Regions from separate parts of the Homo sapiens genome. Here all the other regions are reported to be linked to region 1. Evidence: microRNA targets listed by miRTarBase, many of them from high-throughput screens and not tested one by one. Region 1 holds a microRNA gene; each other region holds the end of a gene's coding sequence.

Region 1 (7,683 bases):
TGAGCATGTGTTACAGGCTTGGTATGTACCAGACCCTGTGCTAAGCAAGGGGGTATGGAGAGGAGAGGGTGACAAGAATATTGGATCAACACCCGGGAGCTCCATCTATCCCAGGATGCACTATCTTTTTTTTATTTTTTTGAGACGGAGTCTCACTCTGCCTGCAGGCTGGAGTGCAGTGGCTCCATCTCGGTTCACTGCAACCTCTGCCTCCTGGGTTCAAGCGCTTCTTGTGCCTCAGCCTCCCAAGTAGCTGGGATTACAGGCACATGCCACCACACCCAGCTAATTTTTGTATTTTTAGTAGAGACGGGGTTTCACCATGTTGGCCAGGATGGTCTCGATCTCTTGACCTCAAGATCCGCCCACCTTGGCCTCCCAAAGTGCTGGGATTACAGACATGAGCCACCGTGCCCAGCCAGATACGCTATCTTTTTATTGAGTGATTGAGACAGGGTCTTGCTCTCTTGTCCAGTCTTGAATGTGGTGGTGTAATCACAGGCTCACTGCAGCCTTGACCTCCTGGGCTCAAGTTACCCTTCTGCAGTAGCTGGGACTATAGGAGCGTGCCACCACGCCTGGGTAATTTAAAAAATTTTTTTTGTATAGACAGGGTCTCACTATGTTGCCCGAGCTGGTCTCAAACTCGTGGGCTCAAGTGATCCTCCAGTTTTGGCCTCCCAAAATGTTGGGATCACAGGAGTGAGCCACCACTCCTGGCGATGAGCCAAGTCTTTTTTTTTTTTTTTTTTTTTTGATATGGAGTCTTGCTCTGTTGCCCAGGCTGGAGTGCAATGACACGATCTTGGCTCACTGCAACCTCTGCCTCCCAGGTTCAAGCAGTTCAAGCAATCCTCCTGTCTCAGCCCCCCAGTAGCTGGGATTACAGGCATGCGCTACCACGTCCGGCTAATTTTTGTATTTTTAGTAGAGATGAGGTTTTGCCATGTTGGCCAGGCTGGTCTTGAACTGCTGACCTCAGGTGATCCACCTGCCTCGGCCTCCCAAAGTGCTGGGATTACAGGTGTGAGCCATCGTGCCTGGCGGAGCCGAGTCTTAAAAGATGACCCTGTGGAGAAATGGTGGTCCAGGCTGAAGGGACAGCCTATGCAAACACTGGGAGGTGTGGAAAATCATGACCTGTGGGTGGAAATTTTGGCTAGAACATCAAAATCATCAGGTGTACATTCCTGTACCCATGCAGCAGTCAGAATCTCTGGGGGTGGGGCCCCAAAATTGTATGCATACAGACTGTGTGCTGATTTGTGATATTACTTAGGATTTTTTGACTTTACAATGGTGGAAAAGCAATAATATACATTCAGTATAAACCGTACTTTGAATACCCATACAGCCATTCTGTTTTTCACTTTTATTTTTATTTATTTATTTATTTATTATTTATTTTGAGATGTCATTTTGCTGTTGTTACCCAGGCTGGAGTGCAATGGCGCAGTCTTGGCTCACCGCAACCTCCACCTCTCAGGTTCAAACGATTCTCCTGCTTCAGCCTCCAGAGTGGCTGGGATTACAGGCAGGCACCACCACACCCGGCTAATTTTGTATTTTTAGTAGAGACGGGGTTTCTCCATGTTAGTCAGGCTGGTCTCGAACTCGAGAGCTCAGGTGATCTGCCCATCTCAGCCTCAAGCCACCATGCCCAGCCCTACTTTCAGTATTCAATAAATTACATAGCCAGGCACCGTGGCTCACACCTGTAATCCCAGCACTTTAGGAGGCCAAGGTGGGAGGATCCTTTGAGGCCAGAAGCTCGAGACCAGCCTGGGCAACATAGTGAGACCCCATTTCTACAAAAAATAAAAAAACTAGCTGAGTGTGGTGGCGTGTGTCTGTAGTCCCAGCTACTTGGGCAGCTGAGGTGGAAAGACTGCTTGAGCCCAGAGGTCAGGGCTGCAGTGGGCCATGATCTCACCACTGCACTCAGCCTGGGCAACACAGCAAGGCCCTGTCTCAAAAATAAATAAATAAATAACACAAACTTATTTAACAGTTTACTATAAAATAGGCTTTGTGTCAGATGATTCTGCCCAACTGTAAGCTGCTGGCAGTGTAAATGTTCTGAGCACGTGTAAGCCAGGCTAGGTGTCTTAAATGCATTTTCAGTTTCAACTTAGAATTGGTTTATCAGGACGTAGCCCCTTGGTGTTGAGGGGCATGTGTATTAACAGTCTCCTTAGTGACTTTTTTTTTTTTGAGATGGAGTCTTGCACTGGCCGTAGTGCAGTGGCACAATCTCAGCTCACTGCAACCTCTTGTCTCCCGGGTTCAAGCGATTCTCCTGCCTCAGTCTCCCAAGTAGCTGGGATTACAGGCACCCACACCACGCCCAGCTAATTTTTGTGTGTGTGTATTTTTAGTAGAGACGGGGGTTTCACTATGTTGGCCAGGCTGGTCTCGAACTCCTGACCTTGTGATCTGCCCACCTCAGACTCTCAAAGTGCTAGGATTCCAGGCATGAGCCACCGCGCCCAGAGTCCTTAGTGATTTTTACACCATGAATTGTTGAAGCCCTAAGCCAGAGCCAAGGGCAAGAGTATAGAGAATCTGGAGATGCGGAGAGGGTTCTGATTGCCTACAAGGAGTTTGGACTTTATTGTGGAGGCAGCGGGGAGCCAAGGCAGGTTTTAGAGTAGGAGAGGGTCCAAGCCTGTGGGTCACCCTTCCGACTTCCCTTTCCGAATGCCAAACACCTTCATGTCCCCCGTGGGCCCCCTTTGTCCCTCCCACCCCAAACTAGCCCTCAATCCCTGACCCTGGCTTCCGCCCCCAGCCCTCTGACGTCCATCATCTCTGCGGTGGTTGGCATTCTGCTGGTCGTGGTCTTGGGGGTGGTCTTTGGGATCCTCATCAAGCGACGGCAGCAGAAGATCCGGAAGTACACGATGCGGAGACTGCTGCAGGAAACGGAGGTGAGGCGGGGTGAAGTCCTCCCAGCCCGCGTGGGGTCTGCACCGGCCCCCGGCACTGACCCACCACCCCCTCACCCCAGCTGGTGGAGCCGCTGACACCTAGCGGAGCGATGCCCAACCAGGCGCAGATGCGGATCCTGAAAGAGACGGAGCTGAGGAAGGTGAAGGTGCTTGGATCTGGCGCTTTTGGCACAGTCTACAAGGTCAGGGCCAGGTCCTGGGGTGGGCGGCCCCAGAGGATGGGGGCGGTGCCTGGAGGGGTGTGGTCGGCAGTTCTGATGGGAGGGGCAAGAGCTGGAGGCAGTGTTTGGGGGAGGGCAGTTACAGCGGAGAAGGGAGCGGGGCCAAGCCCTAGGGTGGTGAAGGATGTTTGGAGGACAAGTAATGATCTCCTGGAAGGCAGGTAGGATCCAGCCCACGCTCTTCTCACTCATATCCTCCTCTTTCTGCCCAGGGCATCTGGATCCCTGATGGGGAGAATGTGAAAATTCCAGTGGCCATCAAAGTGTTGAGGGAAAACACATCCCCCAAAGCCAACAAAGAAATCTTAGACGTAAGCCCCTCCACCCTCTCCTGCTAGGAGGACAGGAAGGACCCCATGGCTGCAGGTCTGGGCTCTGGTCTCTCTTCATTGGGGTTTGGGGAGATATGACTCCCGCAAACCTAGACTATTTTTTTGGAGACGGAGTCTTGCTCTGTCACCCAGGCTGGAGTGCAGTGGCGTTATCTCGGCTCACTGCAACCTCCACCTCCTGGACTCAAGCGATTTTCATGCCTCAGGCTCCTGAGTAGCTGGGATTACAAGCGCCCGCTAATTTTTTTTTTTTTTTTGAGACAGAGTCTCGCTCTGTCACCCAGGCTAGAGTGAAATGGTGCGGTCTCAGCTCAGCCTCCCAGGTTAAAGCGATTCTTCTCCCTCAGTCTCCTGAGTAGCTGGGATTACAGGCGCGAGCCACCACGCCCGGCTAATTTTTGTATTTTTAGTAGAGATGGGATTTCACCATGTTGGCCAGGTTGGTGTCAAACTCCTGACCTCATGATCCGCCCGCCTCGGCCTCCCAAAGTGCTGGGATTACAGGTGTGAGCCACCGTGCCCGGCCTAATCTTTGTATTTTTAGTAGAGACAGGGTTTCACCATGTTGTCCAGGCTGGTACTTTGAGCCTTCACAGGCTGTGGGCCATGGCTGTGGTTTGTGATGGTTGGGAGGCTGTGTGGTGTTTGGGGGTGTGTGGTCTCCCATACCCTCTCAGCGTACCCTTGTCCCCAGGAAGCATACGTGATGGCTGGTGTGGGCTCCCCATATGTCTCCCGCCTTCTGGGCATCTGCCTGACATCCACGGTGCAGCTGGTGACACAGCTTATGCCCTATGGCTGCCTCTTAGACCATGTCCGGGAAAACCGCGGACGCCTGGGCTCCCAGGACCTGCTGAACTGGTGTATGCAGATTGCCAAGGTATGCACCTGGGCTCTTTGCAGGTCTCTCCGGAGCAAACCCCTATGTCCACAAGGGGCTAGGATGGGGACTCTTGCTGGGCATGTGGCCAGGCCCAGGCCCTCCCAGAAGGTCTACATGGGTGCTTCCCATTCCAGGGGATGAGCTACCTGGAGGATGTGCGGCTCGTACACAGGGACTTGGCCGCTCGGAACGTGCTGGTCAAGAGTCCCAACCATGTCAAAATTACAGACTTCGGGCTGGCTCGGCTGCTGGACATTGACGAGACAGAGTACCATGCAGATGGGGGCAAGGTTAGGTGAAGGACCAAGGAGCAGAGGAGGCTGGGTGGAGTGGTGTCTAGCCCATGGGAGAACTCTGAGTGGCCACCTCCCCACAACACACAGTTGGAGGACTTCCTCTTCTGCCCTCCCAGGTGCCCATCAAGTGGATGGCGCTGGAGTCCATTCTCCGCCGGCGGTTCACCCACCAGAGTGATGTGTGGAGTTATGGTGTGTGATGGGGGGTGTTGGGAGGGGTGGGTGAGGAGCCATGGCTGGAGGGAGGATGAGAGCTGGGATGGGGAGAATTACGGGGCCACCTCAGCATGTGAAGGGAGGGAAGGGGCTGCCTGTGCCCCACCTTGCAGGGTCTGTGCACTTCCCAGGATTAGGGAAAGACCGGGTAGGGTCTGTCTCCTGGCATCACATCTCCCCCTGCTACCTGCCATGATGCTAGACTCCTGAGCAGAACCTCTGGCTCAGTACACTAAAGCTCCCTCTGGCCCTCCCACTCCTGACCCTGTCTCTGCCTTAGGTGTGACTGTGTGGGAGCTGATGACTTTTGGGGCCAAACCTTACGATGGGATCCCAGCCCGGGAGATCCCTGACCTGCTGGAAAAGGGGGAGCGGCTGCCCCAGCCCCCCATCTGCACCATTGATGTCTACATGATCATGGTCAAATGTGCGTGGCTGAGCTGTGCTGGCTGCCTGGAGGAGGGTGGGAGGTCCTGGGTGGAGGAGCCCACAAGGGGCATGAAAGGGGACCAGGATGTATGTAGACCCAGGAGCCCTAGTATGTTAGGAGCCTCAAAACCTTCTTGTATCCCTTTTACAGTCAAAGTCCAAAGCCACTCTTGAGGAACACTCTTGTACAAAATTAAGCTGGGCACAGTGGCTCATGCCTGTAATCCCAGTACTTTTGGAGGCTGAGGTGGGAGGATCCCTTGAAGCCAGGAGTTCAAGACCAGCCTGGGCAACATAGTGAGATCCTATCTCTACAAAAAATAAAAAAATTATCTGGGTGTGGTGGTGTGTGCCAGTAGTCCCAGCTACTCAGGAGAGGCTGAGGCAGGAAGATCACTTGAGCCTAGTTTAAGGTTGCAGTAAGCTATGATTGCACCACTGAAATCCAGCCTGGGTGACAGAGCGAAACCTCATCTCAAAAAAATAAAAAAGCAAACAAAAAGAAAAAAAAAATTAAAAGGGAAACTAGAAGAGATGCCAAAGGTTCTGGCTGAAGACCCCAGAGTCTGGTGCTACTTCTCTACCACCTGAGGGCTTTGGGCTGTCCCTTGGGACTGTCTAGACCAGACTGGAGGGGGAGTGGGAGGGGAGAGGCAGCAAGCACACAGGGCCTGGGACTAGCATGCTGACCTCCCTCCTGCCCCAGGTTGGATGATTGACTCTGAATGTCGGCCAAGATTCCGGGAGTTGGTGTCTGAATTCTCCCGCATGGCCAGGGACCCCCAGCGCTTTGTGGTCATCCAGGTACTGGGCCTCTGTGCCCCATCCCTGCCTGTGGCTAAGAGCACCCTCCTGCAGAGGGTGGGAAGGAGAGATGAGTCCAGTATGCCAGGCCCCTCACGGAAGGCTGCATGCTGGGCTGGGGAGGGGCCACCATCCTGCCTCTCCTTCCTCCACAGAATGAGGACTTGGGCCCAGCCAGTCCCTTGGACAGCACCTTCTACCGCTCACTGCTGGAGGACGATGACATGGGGGACCTGGTGGATGCTGAGGAGTATCTGGTACCCCAGCAGGGCTTCTTCTGTCCAGACCCTGCCCCGGGCGCTGGGGGCATGGTCCACCACAGGCACCGCAGCTCATCTACCAGGGTCAGTGCCCTCGGTCACACTGTGTGGCTGTCTGCTTACCTCCCCCAACCCCGGTGGACTAGGGTCCCTTTCTCTGATGTTCCCTCAACTGTCACCTCTCAAGGAAACCCCATTATCCCTACAAAAAATTCTTACTGCCTTCCAACCCCTGTGACCCCATTCTCTCCACGGTGACTGTGTCATACCCCAAAGGTGACCTCTGTTTTTCTCCTGTGACCCTGTCACCTTCCATGGAGTCCCCATCCCAGATCCGTGAGTGACCCCCATCATGACTTTCTTTCTTGTCCCCAGAGTGGCGGTGGGGACCTGACACTAGGGCTGGAGCCCTCTGAAGAGGAGGCCCCCAGGTCTCCACTGGCACCCTCCGAAGGGGCTGGCTCCGATGTATTTGATGGTGACCTGGGAATGGGGGCAGCCAAGGGGCTGCAAAGCCTCCCCACACATGACCCCAGCCCTCTACAGCGGTACAGTGAGGACCCCACAGTACCCCTGCCCTCTGAGACTGATGGCTACGTTGCCCCCCTGACCTGCAGCCCCCAGCCTGGTATGGAGTCCAGTCTAAGCAGAGAGACTGATGGGCAGGGGAGGTGGGACCTTCAGCCCAGGGTCCACTGTGGGGGCAGAGGGAGTGGCAGAGACACCGGGGTTCCTTCCCCTAATGGGTCACCTTCTCTTGACCTTTCAGAATATGTGAACCAGCCAGATGTTCGGCCCCAGCCCCCTTCGCCCCGAGAGGGCCCTCTGCCTGCTGCCCGACCTGCTGGTGCCACTCTGGAAAGGCCCAAGACTCTCTCCCCAGGGAAGAATGGGGTCGTCAAAGACGTTTTTGCCTTTGGGGGTGCCGTGGAGAACCCCGAGTACTTGACACCCCAGGGAGGAGCTGCCCCTCAGCCCCACCCTCCTCCTGCCTTCAGCCCAGCCTTCGACAACCTCTATTACTGGGACCAGGACCCACCAGAGCGGGGGGCTCCACCCAGCACCTTCAAAGGGACACCTACGGCAGAGAACCCAGAGTACCTGGGTCTGGACGTGCCAGTGTGAACCAGAAGGCCAAGTCCGCAGAAGCCCTGATGTGTCCTCAGGGAGCAGGGAAGGCCTGACTTCTGCTGGCATCAAGAGGTGGGAGGGCCCTCCGACCACTTCCAGGGGAACCTGCCATGCCAGGAACCTGTCCTAAGGAACCTTCCTTCCTGCTTGAGTTCCCAGA
Region 2 (7,683 bases), not on the chromosome of region 1:
TGAAGCCTTCTGTGGCTCCTCAGCCACTGATAAATGCCGCTCCCTGCAACTACTGAGCCCAGAGGAGCGTGTTTCTGTCACCGACTATAAGCGACTGCTGGATTCTGGGGCATTCCACCTGTTGCTGGACGTCAGGCCTCAGGTGGAGGTGGACATTTGTCGTTTGCCTCATGCCCTACACATCCCTCTGAAACATTTGGAACGCAGGGATGCGGAGAGCCTGAAACTCTTAAAAGAAGCAATCTGGGAAGAGAAGCAGGGCACACAAGAAGGGGCTGCTGTCCCCATTTATGTGATTTGCAAACTGGGAAATGACTCACAGAAAGCCGTGAAGATCCTCCAGTCCTTATCAGCAGCTCAAGAGTTAGACCCTTTAACAGTTCGGGATGTTGTGGGGGGCCTCATGGCCTGGGCTGCCAAAATCGATGGAACATTTCCACAGTACTGAGGTGACTGGTATAGTCTGATGAGAAAGATGTGGATTGCCATAATACCTCAAAGATACACTTGTTTGCATTTTTCGGTAATATACATAGGAGCTGGGGATTCTACAGTATCTGTGAATACGTGGACTCCTTTTTATAAGGAGTTTTAAAAATTGTTATGTATTGGATGAATGACTTATTAATGGATTATACCGTTTCTGAGAACCATCATTTTTTTTTTCAGCACACGGAGGATGTCTTGGACATGTGAGATGTAACGTGACAGGATTTTGCATTTTAAACTGCAGATCATTTACATGTCCTTATTTTCCACCTCCCCCAGTCAAAATGCTTTCTAAATCATTTTCACAGATTATATACTTCGGATCTGTTTACTGTTCAGTTAAGAAATTCTTGGATCTTATTAATATTTCAGATGATAGAATACATCCTACAGAAATACATGTTTAAAATGTAAATTGTTTTAATTATTCAGAAAGAGGGTCATTCTATTTGGCCTTTTGAATTAGTATCAAAATGAGATTTTTTTTTTTTTTTTGAGATGGAATCTCTCTCTGTTGCCCAGGCTGGAGTGTAGTGGTGCGATCTCAGCTCACTGCAACCTCCGCCTCCCAGGTTCAAGCGATTCTCCTGCCTCAGCCTCCTGAGTAGCTGGGATTACAGGCGCACGCCACCACGCCTGGCTAATTTTTGTATTTTTAGTACAGAGGGGGTTTCACCATGTTTGTCAGGCTGGTCTCGAACTCCTGACCTCGTGATCCGCCTGCCTCGACTTCCCAGAGTGCTGGGATTACAGGCGTGAGCCACCACACCCTCCCGAGATCTTTAAAGTTTACCAAAATAAAGGAAACCACCTTTGTAGTCTGTCAGTGTCTCTTATAAATTGCTACTGTTTTCTTAAAGTTAACTTCAGGGTCCACCTTATGTTGCACACATATCACATCGTTTAAATTGCATACTATGGTTTGACTTGCTTTGGAATTTTCAAGTCAAAGTCCCAACCCTTTGCCTCTCCCCCTTTAATTTGCCTTTTCTCTTTTGATTTAATGTTTTTTTATTCCAGCATTTTATACTAATGTAAAATGTTTTTATGTTTGTTTACTTAACATTTTCATAAAATAGTAGGTAGTCTCACCAACTTCCAATATATACAACAACATTATAAGTAAAAATTTGATTTGTGAGTGCCTATCAGTGGCCAGATGAACTAATGGCTTGTCAGAAGGGGGCCTGTGACCTCCTGCTTGCTGCATGCAGGCTTATAATCATCAATTGCTGCTGTTGTTTTTTTAAGAATGGCAGAAATCACAGATACAACTATAAAATCTTTGTATTTCTGTTAACCATTTTTTTTAAAGCTTAAATGTATCATAAGCCAGCAAAAACCCTTTGTAGACCAGATTTACTTACCAGTTTGCAATTTGTGATATAGAATCTTGTTTTATTATAAGAGGGTGGTATTTAACAAATTCAAAATTAGTCATCACTTTTTAACTGTGAAACATTGTAACTAATTCTTTGAACAGGTATACTTAAAGTATGGTATACCCTTCTGTTATAAAGATGAAGCAGGTCTCTTATGACTGTTCCTGCCAACGAGTTATGGAGGTAAATGACTGTGACCTGGAGTGGAGAACAAAGATGGCTGGCCTGTGTTTTTCATCTCCTTCTTCCAGGGACAACTGATTCTGATACATAGCAGGAAACAAATAGCGACACACAGGAACAATTTCATATTCTAAAGACTGAAGTCCTAAAGTTATAGACAGTTGTAGTTCCTATAAACCTGGTTGTCACAGGGGACAGGCAAGAGAAGCTGACTAGCTAAGTGTTAAAAGGTTTACTAAAGTGATAGGAGGTGCTTTTGAGAATTTTGGGGACAGATTCAAGGCTGTACTTCTAGGAATGATGCCCGAAATCATGCACAAAACTGGCCTTAGGAGAACAGTGTCTATGTTGTGCTGCCCTATCAAGTACCGGAGGAAACGCCACTACAGTCTCACCAGTTTCACTTGACGTGCCCCCCCAACTCTCCCAGAAAGCCCAACACTTCAGCCACAGTCCATGTGTCGAGAAACAGAGTCACTACATTATTCTTTTCTGAGTCAAGCCTTATGAGGGTGCCTGGTAGGCAGAGTCTAATTACATGCCTACATCTTAGCTGCAAGAGAGGCTGGGAATTTGTGTTTTGATATCTACAATAGGAAGACAGAACTCATGATGTGGGATTTTCCCAAATAGTGAAATATTTTTCAAAAGATGGGCTGTTAAGAATATAACAGATACCCAGTACACAACCCAGATCTATTTCAGTATTTGTTTTTTGTTGTTGTTGTTTTGGAGACAGAGTCTCGCTCTATCCCCCAGGCTGGATGGAGTGCAGCGGCACAATCTCGGCTCACTGCAACCTCCACCTCCCATGTTCAAGTGATTCTCATGCCTCAGCCTCCTGAGTAGCTGGGATTACAGGCACCTGCCACCACATCTGGCTAATTTTTCTATTTTTAGTAGCGATGGGGTTTCGCCATGTTGGCCTGGCTGGTCTTGAACTCCTGACCTCAGGTGATCTGTGCACCTCAGCCTCCCAAAGTGCTAGGATTACAGGCATGAGTCACTGCACCTGGCATATATTAGTATTTGAAATTTGGTTTTCTCTGGGGATTGTAGCTAGGTTTTTATGGTGAGATAGGATTTGAACATAATTTGTTTTTTGAGACGAAGTCTTGCTTCGTCGCCCAGGGTGGAGTGTAGTGTTGTGATCACAGCTCGCTGTGGCCTCAACCTCCTGGGTTCAAGTGATCCTCCCACCTCAGCCTCTCAAGTAGCTTGAATTACAGTTGTATGCCACCATGCCTAGCCATTTTTTAATTTAAAAATTTTTTGGTAGCAATGGGGTCTGAATATGTGGCCTAGGCTGATCTCAAACTCCTGGGCTCAAGCATCCCTCCTGCCTCAGCCTCCCAAAGTGCTTGGGATTACGGGTATGAGGCACCATGCCCAGCCTGAACTTGATTTTTTTGTTGTTTCCTTTTCATAACAAACATCAAATGCCTTCAGTGTACTAGTTCTTCTAGGTTCTGGAATAAAAATGAGCAAGAGGTTTCCTGTTGTAGAGGAGTTTATATTTAAATGGTGATAAGTAAATTACTGATAAGTGCCATAAAAGAAATGAAACTGTGACATATTAGGGTGGGGGAGGGGATCTGTTTTGAATAGCTTAATTATGGAAGGCCTCAGAGATGACATTAAACCCAAAACCTGAAAGGTGAGAAAGAGCCAGTTACAGAAGATCTGAGGAAAATTCTATACTGGGAGAAAAATAACTGTAAAGACCTCAAGGTAAATAAACTTGGAATGTTCCGTTCAAGAAACTGCAGAGGCAAGTTGGGTTGCAAACAATTAGGGAGAGTGGGACAGGGTGAGGTTTGAGAAGCAGGGAACATCATAAACTTTGTAGACCATAGTAGTTTGGTTTTTATTCTAAATACAATAATAGCTAATATTTTGAGCACTTACTGTGTTATTTGGGATTTGAATCCAGATGCTCTGGTTGAAGAGCCCATTCCCTAAGTGTCATGCTATACTGACTCTAAGCAAAACTTTGCCATTGCTTCATATGTGTTCATGCCCTGTCAGGGCATAGAAAGCAATCTATGTCCTGACAATCACGGAAGTGTATTCCAGATACAATAGAAATGTACTCTGAGACATTTGGTATGCCTCCTTCTCTCTAGATGTGGAACTCCAGAGTGAAATCTTGGGGAATCCTCTGTGTAACACTGGTGTATTACACAGGCAGTGTCCCGAGGTGGGTGGATCACTTGAGGTCAGGAGTTGAGACCAGCCTGGCCAACATGGAGAAACCCTGTCTCTACTAAAACAAAATTTGCCGAGTGTGGTGGTGTGCGCCTGTAATCCCAGCTACTTGGGAGGCTGAGGCAGGAGAATCACTTGAACCTGGGAGGCAGAGGTTGCAGTGAGCTGAGATCGTGCCATTGCACTCCAGCCTGGGCAACGAGTAAAATTCTGTCTCAAACAAACAAAAACCAAGCCCAGAATTTGGGTGAAAAATAGGATAGTTTATTATGAAGTACTGTGGATTGACACTGACTCTGGTTTCCAATCTTTAGTTCAATTATTCACGATTTAAAAAACAACAGTTGTGAATTATCTAGGTGTTTTTTTCTGCTGCTGCTGCCTTTTTTTTTGTGGGGGGGACAGAGTCTCTCTCTCCTAGGCTGGAGTGCATTGGCATGATCTTGGCTCACTGCAACTCAGCTTAGGACTATTTAATTAATCAACAGCTGCTATGTATTTTATCCTCATGCGCATTGCTCTGTAGAGAAACATCTGCCCATGTCTGTAGGCTTGACAACCCTGACCTTGCACAAAGGCCCGAGTTTCCCATTTATTTGCTTCTATTCTATCAGAACTAGAACCCAAGTGCTTATTATAAGTAGAGGACATGCAATGGGGAAGTCATTTAGGTCATGCCAAGGAAACACAACGGGTTCATTTAAGAAATATTTAATGCTCATTACAAATGGTCAGGTACTGATGCCTGACACAGAGGGACACAACCACGAACAAGACAGACTGGGCGTCTTGTCCATACAACCTTACATCCTAGTAGAAGAGGGAGAGGACAGATAACCAGTTATACAGTCATAGATTGTGATTTGTAAGAAGCAATAATGGCTGGGGGCTGGGGTGGTAGCCAGAGAAGACCCCTGGCAAGGGGCCGTTTCAGCCAAGAAGCTTGAAGGAGATGGCAGGAGCCACGAGGTGAGCTGGGAAGAGCATTCAGGCAAGGGGAACAGCAAGTGCAAGGGTTCTGAGGCTGGAAAGAGCATTTCAAGTTGGGATACACATAGAAGCCAGCTAAGGCCAGAGCACAATGAATGGGAAGAGGGAGGCCAGGGCCAGATGGCGCAAGGCATTGTGGGCTATGGTGAGGAGGCTGGATCTTATTCTAAGGATCATGGAAACCCATGGGAGGTTTTAAGAAGGAGGATGTGGCCAGGAACAGTGGCTCACGCCTGTAATCCTAGCACTTTGGGAGGCCAAGGTGGGTGGATCACCTGAGGTCAGGAGTTTGAGACCAGCCTGGCCAACATGGCAAAACTCCGTCTCTACTAAAAATACAAAAATTAGCCGGGCAGTAGTGGTGCATGCCTGTAATCCCAGCTATTCAGGAGGCTGAGGCGGGAGAATCGCTTGAACCCGGGGGGCAGAGGTTGCAGTGAGCCGAGATTGCACCACTTCACTCCAGCCTGAGCAAAAGATTGAAACTCCATCTCAAAAAAAAAGAAAAAAAAAAGGAGGATGTGCTGGTGTGCAGGGACCCTGTTTCTAAATTACCAAGATTCTTCCGGCCCCTCTGTGAAAAAGGGAGATTATGGTGCAAGGACAGAGGCAGGCGATCAGCTAGGCACAGGTGAAAAGTGATGGCACCTAAGTATGTCAGTTTCCTATTGCTGCTGTGACAAGTTACCACAAACGAAGTGGCTTGACACAGGTTTATTCTCTTACCATCCTGGAAGTCAGAAGTCCTAAAATCAAGGTGTGATCAGGGCTGCTTTTTTTTCTGGAGGCTCTGGGAGAGGATTCGTTCCTGGCCTTTTCCAGCTTCTAGAGGCTGCCTGCCTTCATCGGCTCTCGACCCTTCCTCCATCGTCGAAGCCAGTGGTATATCAATTTCAACCCCTAACTCCGTCGTGATGCCCTCAGTCCAACTCTCCCTCACAAACTCTGTCATTCTTTTTTTTTTTTTTTTTTTTTTGAGACAGAGTATCGCTCTGCCACCCAGGCTGGAGTACAGTGGCTCCATCTCGGCTCACTGCAACCTCCGCCTCCTGGGTTCAAGTGATTCTCCTGCCTCAGCCTCCCGAGTAGCTGGGACTACAGGCATGTGCCACCACGCCTGGCTAATTTTTGTATTTTTAGTAGAGACAGGGTTTCACCATGTTGGCCAGGCTGGTCTCGAACTCCTGACCTCAGGTGATCCATCCGCCTCAGGCTCCCAAAGTGCTGGAATCATAGGCGTGAGCCACCGCATCCAGCCTTGTCTGCCTCTTCTAAGGGCTTGTGATTATATAGGGCCCAACTGGCTAATCCAAGCTACACTCCCCATCACAGGATTTTTTTTTTTAACCTTGCAGCTCCAGCTCAAAGGATCAGACTTCCTAACTTAAATTACACCTGCAAAGTCCCTTTTACCATGAAAGTAACATATTTACAGGCTCCAGGGTTTCAGGCTTGACATCTTTGGGGGCTGTTATTCAACTGGCCACACTAGGACTAGAATGGGTGGTAGAGAGGAGGGAAGTAGACAGATTGGCGCGGTGACTTGGAGGTGGACATCTTTGAAGGATCAGAGGAGGGAGAGGGGGAAGTCAAGATGCCTCAGGGTTGGGCTTGAGCACCTGGATGGACTGGGTGGATGTTTGTGTTATTTACTGGGATGAGGATACTGATGAGAGCCACTGGGGGAGGACTGAGGACAGCAAGTAAGAAACATACTTTCTCCTTCAATATAGAGTATTCTTTTATGTCCATGGAATCATTAGACACACAATGAGAGAAGCACCAAGCAAGACATGCCAAATCTGTTCTTTATGGAGAATCATGAAACCTTCCTGGTGCCACAAGAAACCTCCTTACCAGGGGCAAACCAACCCAAGCCAAGAAGTAATTGTCTTCTACTCCTACAGATAGGAGACAGCAACTCCATAGACTTAAGTATACAGTAAAGTATTACTTTATATTTTGTAGGCTTAGTATCCTACTAAGCAAGTAATTCGAGATTCCTGAAATTTGGAACCATTATAAAAAATCTTTAATTGAACAAATTATATATAGAAAAATGCACAAATCCTGGCTGGGTGTGGTGGCTCACACCTGTAATCCCAGCACTTTGGGAGACCAAGATGAGGGGATCACTTGAGTCCCGGAGTTCGAGACCAGCCTGAGCAACATAGTGAGACCCTGCCTCTATTTTTAAAAAAGAAAAATGCACAAATTCTAAGTGTACTGCTTGATTAATTTTCATAACTTGAACACACTCTTGTCACCATCTCCCTCCTAGACCAAGAAACATAATGGTAGGGGAACCCAGAGCCTCCCTCATGCTCTTTCCCATCCCCCACCCCACCCCCCGGGAGGCCCTGCAAACTGTGAACCTATAAAAGAAAGCCATGAAAGGAAATAAGCTTATTCTTAGAAATTTTACTATCAG
Region 3 (7,683 bases), not on the chromosome of region 1:
TTTCTTTTTTTTTTTTTGAGTCGGAGTCTCCCTCTGTCATCCAGACTAGAGTGCAATGGCGTGATCTCGGCTCACTTCAACCTCCGACTCCCAGGTTCAAGCAATTCTCCCTGCCTCAGCTTCCCAAGTAGCTGGAATTTCAGGTGCCTGCCAGCAGACCTGGCTATTTTTGTATTTTTTAGTAGAGATGGGTTTTGCCATGTTGGCTGGTCTTGAACTCCTGACCTCAGGTGATCTGTCCACCGCAGCCTACCAAAGTGCTGGGATTACAGGCATGAGCCATCGCGCCCAGCCTATTTTCCAACTTTCAGAATTATTTTTAAAAGTTGTTTTCACTAATCTAGGTCCTTTGCATGTCCATATGTATTTTAGAATTGAGTTCCCAATTTCTACAAAACAAAAAGCCTCCTGAATATTCAAAATGGGATTTCACTGAATCTATAGGTCAGGTTGGAAAGAATTGACATATTAATGGTATTGAGTCTTGTAGTCTCTGAACATAGTATATCTCTATTTAGGTCTTTTTTAAAGTTCTCCCAGAAGTGTTTTTAATTTTTATACTATACATCTTGCACTTCTTTTGCCAGATGCATCACTATGTATTTCATATTGTTTATGGTGTTATAAATGGCATTTAAGGTTTTAAGGTTCAGATTGTTCATGGCTAGTTCATGCAAAATCATCTGCTTTATATATATTGATCTTTATTTTGCAGTCTCACTAAGCTCATTTAGTTCTAATAGTGTTGTAGATACCTTCAGATTTTTTTTATATAGACAATCATATAATCTGTTAATAAAGATGATTTTACTTCCTTTCCAATCTGGATACTTTGTATTCTTTCATTTATTGCACTAGCTAGAACTTCCAGTATAATGCTTAGTGGAAGTGTTTAGACCAGGTATCCTCTTTTTGCTGATCTTTGGACTTTTACCATTAAGTATGATGTTAGCAGTAGGTTTCTCACACATACTCTTTATTGGTTAAGGAAATTCCCAGAATCCCAGAATTCTTTTCCTCCTTAACTGAATTATTCTCCTTAATGAATGCTGGATGCCTAGTAAATTTTTTATTTTATTTTATTTTTTAATTTTTATTTATTTTTTTGAACTGGAGTCTCGCTCTGTCGCCCAGGCTGGAGTGCAGTGGTGCGATCTCAGCTCACTGCAACCTCTGTCTCCCGGGTTCAAGTGATTCTCCTGCCTCAGCCTCCTGAGTAGCTGGGATTACAGACCTGGCGGGTTTTTTTTTTTGGTATTTTTAGTAGAGACGGGGTTTCACCATGTTGATCAGGCTGGTCTCGAACTCCTGACCTCAGGTGATCCACCCGCCTCAGCCTCCCGAAGTGCTGGAATTACAGGCTCGAGCCACCGCACCCAGCTGATGCCTAGTAATTTTTTATTTTCCACTTTGGCTACTGGGAAAAGGAATTATTCCTGGACGTTTTTGAGCTCTGTGGATTCTTCCCTCTAATCCTTTAAGGTAATTGTTTTTCCCTGGCTTCAGGTAGTTTTCACACACGCACGTGTTGATGAATATTTAGCTGAACTTAAAGGAAGATCCTCTGGAGATTTCCGTGCAGTTCTCTCCTCTTCAGTGTTTTGCCTTGTCAACTCGGGCCACTTTGGCCTCATCAGACTCCTCATTCTATCTAAACACTAGGAGACCACCAGGCTCTGCCTGAGTTACTCCTCCCAGCAGTAATCTGGAAAAACTAGGAAAAATTTATTTCTGTTTTTTTCAGGGATCACTGTTCTTCATTGGAAATTGACATTTTAGTATATTCAATGTCTTAAAAACCATTGTTTCACCTATTTCGTTTAGCTTTTTAGTATTTACAGATATAAGGGTAAATCTGGTCTGTTTCTCCATTTGATCAGAAGCAGACATCTGTTCATTCTGTTACTGGTGACTTTCAGTTAACAGAATAATAAAATTAATATGAATATGCCACACTTTTCTAGTTAAAATGTTTTGTCTAGGAAATATTCTTTACTGTGAGGTTATAAAATGATTCTCAGATAAAAACAAGGTAAAATCAAAGGTGACTACTTTCCAACCTTGCTCTCTCCCACCTATAGTTTGTATTTTAATTTTTCTTAAGAGACAGGGGTTTTGCTATGTTGCCCAGGTTGGACTTGAACTCCTATGCTCGAGGGATCCTCCTACCATGTCCTCCCAAGTAGCTGGGATTACAGGCGTGCACCACCACACCCTGCTCCCACCTATTATTTCATCATTTTGATTAGGTCTTGGCTTATCCTTCCACTGTTTTTGAAAGTATAAACATAGCTGGGTGCGGTGGTTCACGCCTGTAATCCCAGCACTTTGGGAGGCTGAGGCGGGCAGATCACGAGGTCAAGAGATCGAGATCATCCTGGCCAACATGGGGAAACCCCATCTCTACTAAAAATACAAAAACTAGCTGGGCATGGTGGCGCATGCCTGTAGTCCCAGCCTCTCGGGAGGCTGAGGCAGGAGAATCTCTTGAACCCGGGAGGCGGAGGTTGCAGTGAGCCAAGATTGTGCAAGCGCACTCCAGCCTGGCAACAGAGTGAAACTCCATCTCAGTGTACTTGTCACCTTAAAAAAGATCTAGTCAACATGAATGAAAATGGCTTATTACAATACAGTTACATAACAAAAAATTATTTTTCACACAAATTGTGAAATTCCATAGATGACAATAATTTAGGAGGGAACTACCTGTTAAAGGTGTGACTTACAAAATGTGCTAAATATGTGTACATATAGTCACCATTTCTTAACTCATGTAACACTAAAAGATACCAAGAACTTCACTTAGAAGAAATTGATAAAGTAACTTTTCATCATTCAGAATTACCCATCCAGGCTGGTCACGGTGGCTCACACCTGTAATCCTGGCACTTTGGGAGGCTGAGGTGGGCGGATCACCTGAGGTCGGGAGCTCGAGACCAGCCTGGCCAACATGGTGAAACCCCATCTCTATTGAAAATACAAAAATTAGCCAGGCATGGTGGAGGGTGCCTGTAATCCCAGGTACTCGGGAGGCTGATGCAGGAGAATCATTTGAACCTGGCAGGCAGAGATTGTAATGAGCCAAGATCACCCCACTGCACTCCAGCCTGGGCAACTAGAGTGAGACTCCACCTCAAAAATAAAAATTATCCATCCTGCTCAGAGCTTAAACATTATAAGCAAATATCTACTATATTATTCTTTGATTAAATATTGGGTTCATCTATGTAAGTTTTTTTCATGTATCTTCATGAGTGAAATTTTTCTGGAATTTGATGTTCAAGAGCTATCCCATCTACTTTTATTATAAAAATGTTAGTCTTTTAGCATGCCCTGGCAAATTTTCCATAGGATTTTCTATTCTTCAGGGTGTAGCCTGTACAGTTTTCTAGTCTTACATGTTTGTTTTGTTTTGTTTTAGACAGGGTCTTGCTCCATCACCGACTGCAGTGCAGTGGGGTGATCACAGCTTACTGCAGCCTCAAACTCCTGGGCCCAAGCAGTCCTCTCACCTCAGCCTCCTGAGTAGCTGGGACCAGAGGCATGTGCCACCACACCTGGCTAATTTATTTTTTGCAGAGATGGGGGTCTCCCTATGTTGTCCAGGCAAGTCTGGAACTCCTGGTTCAAGTGATACTCCTGTCTCAACCTCCCAGAGTGTTTGGATTACAGGCATGAGCCACTGTGCTCAACCTCATCTTACATGATACTTTTTTCTATTTTTTGAACTTTTTGGGTTGTTTTTGAAACTTAATCATATTTAATAATGTTTTCCTAGAAAAAAACCGTACACATATAAAAATCATGTCTAACAGAGTTCACATACTTAATACTAAAAAATATCTCCAAACATATAGTTATATTCCATTTCTCCTTATAATATAGTAGAGGCACTGACAAAGTCTAATGAATAATAGTTTTCTTCAAAGGACTAGATTTTGATGAAAAACCTGTATGGTTTTTTATTCCATGATTTCAGCTTTTCATTAAGCCTTTCCATTCATTCATTTGGGGTATTTGTTCTTATTCTACCTTGCTGTGTAATCATTATTTAACTCAATAAATATTTGAGGCCCTACAACATTATAGGCACTGTCCTAAGTGCTGTGGATACAGTGCTGTGGATACAGTGATGAAGAGAAACAAACTGCCCTCAGTCTTCTTGGTTTTATACACAGAGCAATTTCTATTGATAACTGTTTTAGTTATTTCACAGGATTTAAAATATAGGTCTCATTATCATTCTAAATACTCTGTAATTTCACTTTTTATTTGCTCTTTAATCTAAGAATGGTTTATATATAGTAGTAAATTTCAAAGAGGTAAGAATCCATATGGCTATCCATTTGCTAGTTTCTGAGTTATAACTGTGGTAAAGAATTATATAACACTTGGCTTTAGAAATTTGTTAGAGAGAAGTTATTTCTGAATGTCTTTTAAAAAACTGCTGAACACTCAACAACCCCACTTTTACTAAAGTCATAAGGCTTTCTTTTATAGGTTTTTTTGATGTAGCATGTGAAATTAATATTCAAAGCTTTCTTCATTGTATTTTACTGATTTTTTTTCAGAATTAACATTCTGATGTTCAGTAAGACATAAATAGAGATGACATATTTGTCTATAATCATTATAGTCTTAAAAGTCCTCCTCTCATAAAATGGCTTAATACCAATACAAATGACAGTCACTAAGTCATGTAAATCTCAAATCATTCAACCCTTATAATCTAATGAATACGATTAAACAGACATAGATTTAAGATACTTTCCAAAAAAAAAAAATAGAGGCAGGATGTATTGAAACAAGACATGCCAAATAAATTGTATGACATAGTTCAAGGCTTTTCTAGATTAATTACATGATTTTTGTGGAAATACAACAGAATTTTGCTAATGATGAAAGATTTCCAAAATGAATTATATATAAATTCTTGTGGGTTTTTGTTTTTGAGATGGAGTCTTGTTCTATCACCCAGGCTGGAGTGCAGTGATGTGATCTTGGCTCACTGCAACCTCCACCTCCCAGGTTCAAGGAATTCTCATGCCTCGGCCTCCCGAGTAGCTGGGACTACAGGCGTGTGCTACCACGCCCGGCTAATTTTTGTATATTTAGTAGAGACAGGGTTTCACCATGTTGGTCAGGCTGGTCTCGAACCCCTGACCTCAGGTGATCCACCCACCTCTGTTTCCCAAAGTGCTAGGATAACAGGTGTGAGCCACCATGCTTGGCCAAATTATATATAAATTCTTTATGCAACATCTCTGATGAGAATGTTTTGAGAATGATTCAAAAAGAATTCATGCTATCTCATAAAATTTTACCCTGATATTCTGCAATTGATAACTGATCAGTAATTTCTTTCCTATATTGATTGCATGATGAATTCTCTGCTGCTGCTGCTGCTGCTGCTGCTGGATGTGTGCTCTGTTAAAATGCCTTCCAATATTACTTACATTTGTGGTGTTCCTCAAGAGAAAAAAATAAATGACATCAATTAATGAGTCATGAATAAAGCCCTTCCTACACTTTTATATAATATTTCACAAGAGTGAAATGAAGTGAGAGCTTGAAGAAAATGCTTTCTCAAAATCTTTAAATTCATAGGATTTCTCAAAAGTGTAAATATTCTGGTGTTGAGCAAAGTTTGACTCATGACTAAAGGTGTTCCCATAGTCTGTCCATTCACAGAGATTTGCACTATTATGAATTTTTTGTTCAGTAAAATATGAATGGTGACTAAAGATGTGGCTACTTTTCTTGCATCCATAAGGTTCTGCATCAGTATGAATTTTCTTATGTCGTGTAAGCTGTGAACCCCAGATAAAAGATTTCCCACATTCTTTACATACGTAAGGTTCCTCACCAGTATGCATTCTCTGATGTCGAGTAAGTTGTGAACCCCAGAGAAAGGCTTTTCCACATTCTTCACATTCATATGGCCTCTTTCCAGTATGAATTTTCTGGTGTCGATTAAGTTCTGAACCACGAAAAAAGGTCTTTCCACATTCCTTACATTCATAGTTTCTCTCACCAGTATGAATTTTCTGATGTCGATTAAACTCTGAGCCATGAAGAAAGGTCTTTCCACATTCCTTACATTCATAGGATTTCCTCTCATTGTGAATTTTCTCATGTTGAGCAAGATACGAAGCCCAAGTAAAAGTCTTCCCGCATTGCTTACATTCATAAGGTTTCCTGCCAGTATGAATTCGCTGATGTCGAGCAAGGTGTGAGCTCCAAATATAGGCTTTCCCACATTTCTCACATTTATAAGGTTTCCTACCAACATGAACATTCTGATGTTGAGCAAGATTTGAACCACGAATAAAGGCTTTTCCACATTCCTTACACTCATGAGATTTCTCACCAGTATGAATTCTCTGATGCTGAGTTAGGTGTGATCCACGAGTAAAAGCTTTCCCACACTCCTTACATTCATAAGGTTTTTCACCAGTGTGAATTCTCTGATGTTTAATAAGATGTGATCGCTGACTAAAGGCCTTTCTACATTCATTACATTCATAGGGTTTTTCACCAGTATGAATTCTCTGATGTCGAGTAAGATCTGAGCCACAACTAAAGGCCTTCCCACATTCCTTACATTCATAAGATTTCTCACCAGTATGAATTCGCTTATGGACACTAAGTTGTGAATGAAATCTAAAGGCTTTCCCACAATCCTTACATTTAAAAGGTTTCTCACCGGTATGAATTCTCTTATGACCAGTAAGACTCGAACGTAAACTAAAAGACTTCCCACATTCTTTACATTCATATGTTTTCTTAACAGTGTGAACTGTCTGATATTGAATAACTTCTGAATCAGGAAGAAAGGTATTCCCACATTCTTTATCTCCACAGAATTTCTCACTTGTGTGAATTAACTGATGTTGAGTATGATCTGAACCAGAAATAAAGGCTTTCCCCAGTTCTTTAAATTCATTCAGTTTGTCTCCTGTATTAAGTCTCTGGTGTAGATTAAACACTGTATGCTGGTTAAAAGTGGGCCTTTTTTCACAGGTGCGTATCACCTGCTTGAAGCATTCCTCTTGATTATCTTGAAGTGTTTGAAACTGAGTGTTGCCTTCCCAGTCACCTCTAAAACATAAACAGTCAAGGCTGTGGTTTTTACAAATTCTCATTATTTCCAATTGGGCTATTTCTCTCTCAAAAATGCCATTTTTTGGTAATAACTTCTTGGTCTGACACCTCGACTGCATGTCTGAAAAATAAGAAGGTAAAAACATCATACGGTTGTATGTACAAAAAGCAATACAACTTCTAAAATAGATATAGAAAATCTTGAAGTAAAGCATATGAGAAGTGAATGGCTTAGAAAATTCTCAAATATGAGCAATATGAAAAAAAGGGCAAGAAATAAGTAGAAATTTAAAAGAAATAAAAGTTGAGTCAAGTGATGAGAAATATGTTTTATTTTGATCATATTCATCTGAGGAGCTCAATAAAAAATGATTATCCAGGTATCACCTCAATAACAGAATAATAAGTCATAAAATACCTACAAGTTTCCAAGTACTATGATGAATGTCTTATATAATTCAGAGCTTAAAAATAGGAATGCTGGGAAATAGCAGAATATCAGTCTAATATGAGGGAAGTAATCTGATCCAGAGTTACCAAAGTACTAGGATCTCAATAGCAGGGTATGCTGCATTTAGG
Region 4 (5,618 bases), not on the chromosome of region 1:
TAGAGACGGGGTTTCACCATCTTGGCCAGGCTGGTCTTGAACTCCTGACCTTGTGATCCAAAGTGCCTCAGCCTCCCAAAGTGCTGGTAAATTTATTTTTAAGACAGGGTCTCAGCTGGGCGCAGTGGCTCATGCCTGTAATCTCAACACTTTGGAAGGCTGAGGTGGGTGGCTCACCTGAGGTCAGGAGTTTGAGACCAGCCTGGCCAACATGGTGAAACCCCGTCTCTACTAAAAAATACAAAAGTTAGCTGGACGTGGTGGCACACACCTGTAATCCCAGCTACTCAGGGGAGGCTGAGGCAGAAGAATTGCTTGAACCCGGGAGGTGGAGGTTGCAATGAGGTGACGTCACACCACTGCATTCCAGCTCTGGGCAACAGAGCAAGACTGTCTTAGTGGGGGTGGGGGCGGGGAGGGCGGTGAGAAGGATCTTCCTCTGTCACCCAGGCTGGAGTGCAGTGGTATGTCAGCTCACTGCAACCTCTGCCTCCCAAGCTCAAAAGATCTTCCCACCTTGGCCCTCCCTGCACAGTAGTTGGGACTACAGGCCTGCATCACCATGCCTGGCTCATTTTTATATTTTTTGCCGAGATGAGATTTCACCGTGTTGGCCAGGCTGGTCCTGAACTCCAGATCTGCCCATCTCGGCCTCCCAAAGTGCTGAGATTACAGGCATGAGCCACCACATCCAGCCATAATTTTTAAAAATGGCTTCCTGAGGTTTTACAAGAAAATATGCACCTCAAAATACACAAATAGGCATGGGAATAGAGTACAGTGAAGTGAAAGATAAAATGTACTGAGAGCTGGGAGTAGGAGAGACAAGGCCCTGGCTGAGGGGGTGTCAGTGGGCCTCCCAACACCTCAAGCCAATCCACTTGGAGGTCTCCCAAAGTTCATCAGGAGAACCACCTACAGCCAAGAACAGAAAAGGATTCAAGAAAGCCGCACAGATATCATGCCCTGACCTGCAATGAGGCTGCTCACTTCCCATGACTTCTGCTTGATACCATTCAACCCTGGTTAGCTCATGCTGAAGAAATATTTACTAGAAGCCTCAGATATGGGTGCCTAGAAGGAAAAAGATCCAAGTTCTCTGTGGTGGTGCAACCTGTGGGAACTATTGCCTCATGCTCAGAAGGCCAAGCACTAGGCTCCCATACAATACCTACAAGACAGACACTCTGGGAGGCAGATTTCTCTTTTGGAGGGAGACCCCAGGTGCTCTCCTCTGGGTGCCCGAGTGTTGGAATGGGCGGATGCCAAGACTTCATTCTAGCTCTTGGTCAGCAGCAGCACTAAGGGTCTCTGAGAAGCATCAGAGATTTCACCACTGATGAACTGCCAGGAGGCTAGTGGGGGCGGACTGAGGAGACACTGAAACACCGAAGCTGCCGCCACCACCGGCTGATGCAAGTTTTATTGAGACAATATACAAACAGGCCATGGAAACAAGGGTTTTGATGCTGGGACCAGTAACGTAAAACGGAATACAAAAATAAAAAGGCACTAATCTGTTAAGAAAAGACACTCGATGTATTCTAAGAATATAAGTCATTTAATACTGTTAATTTTATAGCACAAAATAAAACAAGCTATGATCCCCAAAAATAATTTTAAAAGCTTACACAGAAAATATTATTGCCTGAAGTTTATGATCTTTAAGTTACAGGTCAAAAGAGTTTTATGTTGTTGTTGTTGTTGTTGTTGTTGTTTTAAAACACACAGTGAAGACCGTCTAAGAAGCAAGGCCACTGTTCCTCCTGTAGGGACAACGATCCTGTCTCAGAGACCTGTCCTTCTGCTCCTTTAGAAAACAGAACCAGCACAGCGTCCACACCGACAGCAGTTACTAGGGGCATAGTCCTCCGGTCGCAGAGGGTGGAGTTGAGGCAGAGCTCAGTGGTGTCCACAGAAAGCATTAGTCTTAGGTACTGTGTTAAAACAATCAAGAATTCATTCATGTTTAAGAGGTTAATAACCATAATATTAAAGGATTAATTATAAACACCTGGCAAAAAACCACATCATCCCTTTTCAAAAATAAAATGTTCATATTCCTCTGAGCAAACATCACAAGAGCAGTGGCCATCTGCCTCAGGCCTGCCTTGTCTGTAAACAGCTGTAAAGGAAAGCTAGCACAGCGCCAGGGACACATGAGCTCCCAGGAGGGCACAGCTGTCCTTCCCTTTCAGCTTTCCAAACATGAGCACAGAAGGTGTCTAGTCTGGGTGACCAAAGTCCTCAAACGGCAGCCGGTCAACACATCGTCTTCCTCGTTAACCATGTCATCAGGTGGTTCCACACAGCACAGACATGGCTGACTCCTGTACCGCAGGTCCTTCCCGGGATACACAAGTTTTTAACCAGTCAATGCCCTCTAGTACGTAATTTGTTTCCTTCCCAGGTGAAAAACCATAGTGAGTTAATTTAACATCCAAATATTTCTTTAAACATGGTAGAGCAGAGCAAGTAGCAGTTATGAACACCCACCCTCTGGGTCAGATGTGCACTGCTCTATGGAGCACAACAGTCTTCCCAGACCAGTGGGGAACCCAGGCACGAAGCTGAGCTGAGGCAGCAGTGCTGCATTCATATGTTTAGTGTGAAAAACAGAGTATCCCTGCCTCATTAAAAAAACTGACAAGGTTGTAAGTCCGTTAAGTTTTACTAGTTTTGGCACATATCTGGAGTGCAGAACTCAAGCTCGCCTTGTTTTGAGCTCTGAATCTCCTGGCAGCCCTGGATGCCATTTTCATGGGCTGAAGTAACGAGCTGATTAATTATAAAACCAAACCACAGGTATACTCTAGGTATATCTGATTCTGAAGTGCGCCACACAAGGTGAGTCGGGGTATTGGTCAGTAGACAGGGCTGAAAGGAAACCTTGCTTTCCAAAATGGCCAGACTTCTTGCACTCTGAGTCAACTGCTGTAATTCAAAGGTGTCAAGCCCTTCAGCTAAATCTGGTTGAAAAAGGCCTAAGGGTCGTGCCCTCCTTGAACAAGGCACACATTCCTCCCTCTGTTGGAAACTCCACTCATGGCTCAACATGGGCCGGGATGAACCACGTCACTGGCCAAAGGGCAAACACTGTTTCTAGGCAGAGTCTGGGGACTCTTGTGATATGTCTGCCACTTGTGGGTGCTACGCCAGGCCTGAACCCAAAATAAGCCAACCTGACACACCTAACCAGAAGCGGCAACTGCCGCAGACCGTGCAGAGCAGGAGGCGGTCACCGTTCTCACTGGCAAGGAAGGGCTAATCTCCAAGGCTTTTAGAGGAAAACCACAGATGGGAAGCCATGGCGATAGTTTTCCCAAATGACCATTAATTCTGTCTCAGGAACACTCTCAAGATTCATGAATACAGCAGTTATCTGCCTGATGGAATACTGATTTAAAGAAAAATTGAAAAATGGCTGTTCTGCTGGTTCTGTCTCCAGAATGCATTGCTCTAAATCTCAAAACCTAGGAACCTCCAGACAGGGCCACAGTCACAGCAGATGATCAGTAAATGAAAGCTACTCAGTAGGCTGCTGCTACATTTCTAGGTCTGCTGTGTTCACTATGAGCTGAGGCTTTTCTTTACCAGGGTCCACAAGGGAGAGCAGACTGAATTGCACAGGGTTCCCAGAATTCTAGTCTGCTATGTGCAGCAGATGATGGATGAACCACACGTATATACCAGTTGGCTTGTATGAACAGGCCTCTTTTAGCTAACAGGGAAATGCTTTAACATCAATACACTGATAAGTGGTTAATGATAAACTAGTTAATGGTCTCCCTAGTCACTAAAACACTAAGACATCAAATACATTAACGAATTTCCAGAGCTTGCATTTCCTTTGCTTGGGAGCATCACAGACACTTACTTAGACTGTGAGACCAGTATGAGCAGCACCAACTTTCTCTGGCAGCCTGACGAGATTGGGCCTGGGCACGGAGGTCTGGGCTTCAGTGAGTGGAGTTGAACGATTCATTAATGAGTCCAACGATTCTATGAACAACGCCACTTTTTAAGGAAGTTTAAGTCTGAACCTTAAAGGGGTACATTCACTGAAAAGCTGAACAGAAAACTGGCCAAGTGCCCTCCAACCCACTGCTCTTATCACTGGCAAAACAAGGTAAGCAAAGGTTTCCCTAAAGTACCCCCAACTCTGATGCTTTTTAAAACAAAGTAATCCAAGGGGCTGTGCACATAGCATGGCACACCACAACTGCATTATTTTGTGTGTTGTCTGCTACATGGCAAAACAAGGTACTACTGGCAACCAAGACAATAAAGGCCTCTGCTTCAGGGTTGTTCTTTTCAGATTCCTTTAGTTACAGCAGCTTCAGTTTAGAAGCTCAGAGGCATGAGTCATTCCTTGCACTATCATAAAAACCCAACCTGCTACTTAACCTGTTTAGAACACACAAGTCTAGGCCAGGCGCGGCGGCTCACGGCTGTAATCCCAGCACGTTGGGAGGCTGAAGGCGGGTGGATCACCTGAAGTCAGGAGTTTGAGACCAGCCTGGTCAACATGATGAAACCCCGTCTCTACTAAAAATACAAAAATTAGCTGGGCGTGGTGTGCGCGCCTGCAGTCCCAGCTACTTGGGAGGCTGAGGCAGGAGAATCGCTTGAACTCAGGAGGCGGAGACTGCAGGAAGGCGAGATTGCGCCACTGCACTCCAGCCTGGGTGATGCAGCGAGACACCGTCTCAAAAAAACAAAACAAAACAAACAAAACAAAACAAAAAAAAACCCCCACACAAGTCTAATTAATTAGTTTTCCAAAACCAAACCAAAACAAAAGAAAAAAAAAAGCCAGATTTTGGAGTTTTAGAACAGAATTCTCTCTTCCTTAAGGTTCACTTCCTGTTGTCCAAAGAAAAGCAAGATGGCAGCTAAGCCACTGCTTTGTGGAACAGCAAACATGCAGTATCTCGCCATGGCCTCAAGCTTTCTCTGGTGAACACAACAGAATCAGTCCCATGTACAAACGGGCAGCAATGAGAAGGAAGACCCTTTCCATGTCAACTTCTCTCCACTTGTGTGCTTCCATCAGTATTTCCAGTTTATGATCCAAAAGAACTCTAAAATCGGCTACTCTTTGACAATACGACTATGATACAAACATCAGGAGGCAGCCGCTGTGTGCATTCCAAATGTGTGTGCGACTGCCAGTCTGCAGAAAGCTGGACTTCGGCAATGCAGTGTGACTTGCCTATGAGAGAAAATGCTTTCCCACTTCAAAGGAGACTAGGACAGGCAGAACAACAAAGCAGCAGGAAACAGGGCAACAGCAATCACTCGTTTTCATCTGGGTTTTGAGGGTCAAAGATTTTGACGTGCGTAAAGGGGAAAAGCCCTTTGCGCCCGTTCACTTCGCCTTCCCACTGGCCATTTATATTCATCCTTGTGACTTTCACGATGTCACCAACCTGTATGGATGAAGAAGACAAAGTTAGCATTTCTCTGCAACAAGAAAAAGACAGTTTACATTAAATCACAAACACTACCTTATCCAAAGGGCCCATACATTATTATTTAGACACAGGGTCTCACTCTGTTAGCCATGCTGGAGTGTAGTGGTGAGATCCCTGCTCAATGTAACCTCTAACGCCTGG

Evidence for each region. The annotated mature microRNA hsa-miR-4728-5p reads UGGGAGGGGAGAGGCAGCAAGCA and lies in region 1 at 5,969-5,991, shown strand. An mRNA with a match to its seed (bases 2 to 7 or 8) in the 3' UTR can be bound and repressed. Matches are read on the target gene's strand: a 7mer-m8 pairs with bases 2 to 8, a 7mer-A1 pairs with bases 2 to 7 and ends in A, and an 8mer does both.
Region 2: miRTarBase lists MOCS3 as a target of hsa-miR-4728-5p. Seed matches in the 3' UTR shown: 7mer-A1 at 1,054-1,060, 7mer-m8 at 1,258-1,264, 7mer-A1 at 2,860-2,866, 7mer-A1 at 3,027-3,033, 7mer-A1 at 3,247-3,253 and 7mer-A1 at 3,403-3,409.
Region 3: miRTarBase lists ZNF790 as a target of hsa-miR-4728-5p. The part of its 3' UTR that is shown has no 7-base or 8-base seed match.
Region 4: the mRNA of CRKL is a reported target of hsa-miR-4728-5p. Seed matches in the 3' UTR shown: 7mer-A1 at 4,604-4,610 and 7mer-A1 at 4,469-4,475.

The regions. Positions count from the first base shown.
Region 1 is chr17:39,720,528-39,728,210 of GRCh38, forward strand. MIR4728 (microRNA 4728) reads left to right here and starts at 5,968; the gene lies at 5,968-6,034. It overlaps ERBB2 (erb-b2 receptor tyrosine kinase 2), which reads left to right. Exons shown (of 27, transcript NM_004448.4): 17 at 2,792-2,930; 18 at 3,011-3,133; 19 at 3,385-3,483; 20 at 4,199-4,384; 21 at 4,522-4,677; 22 at 4,800-4,875; 23 at 5,180-5,326; 24 at 6,035-6,132; 25 at 6,288-6,476; 26 at 6,768-7,020; 27 at 7,162-7,683. The coding sequence ends at 7,517. RefSeq lists an enhancer at 5,776-6,748.
Region 2 is chr20:50,959,778-50,967,460 of GRCh38, forward strand. MOCS3 (molybdenum cofactor synthesis 3) reads left to right here. Exons shown (of 1, transcript NM_014484.5): 1 at 1-4,152. The coding sequence ends at 448. Among named protein-coding and RNA genes, the nearest start is that of MOCS3, 4.8 kb to the left of the region's middle.
Region 3 is chr19:36,812,890-36,820,572 of GRCh38, forward strand. ZNF790 (zinc finger protein 790) reads right to left here. Exons shown (of 5, transcript NM_206894.4): 5 at 4,539-7,225. The coding sequence ends at 5,544. All of the region lies in intron 3 of ZNF790-AS1 (ZNF790 antisense RNA 1), which reads left to right. Among named protein-coding and RNA genes, the nearest start is that of ZNF790-AS1, 19 kb to the left of the region's middle.
Region 4 is chr22:20,949,525-20,955,142 of GRCh38, reverse strand. CRKL (CRK like proto-oncogene, adaptor protein) reads right to left here. Exons shown (of 3, transcript NM_005207.4): 3 at 1,396-5,432. The coding sequence ends at 5,298. Among named protein-coding and RNA genes, the nearest start is that of LINC01637, 4.8 kb to the left of the region's middle. RefSeq lists enhancers at 2,623-3,122, 3,123-3,624.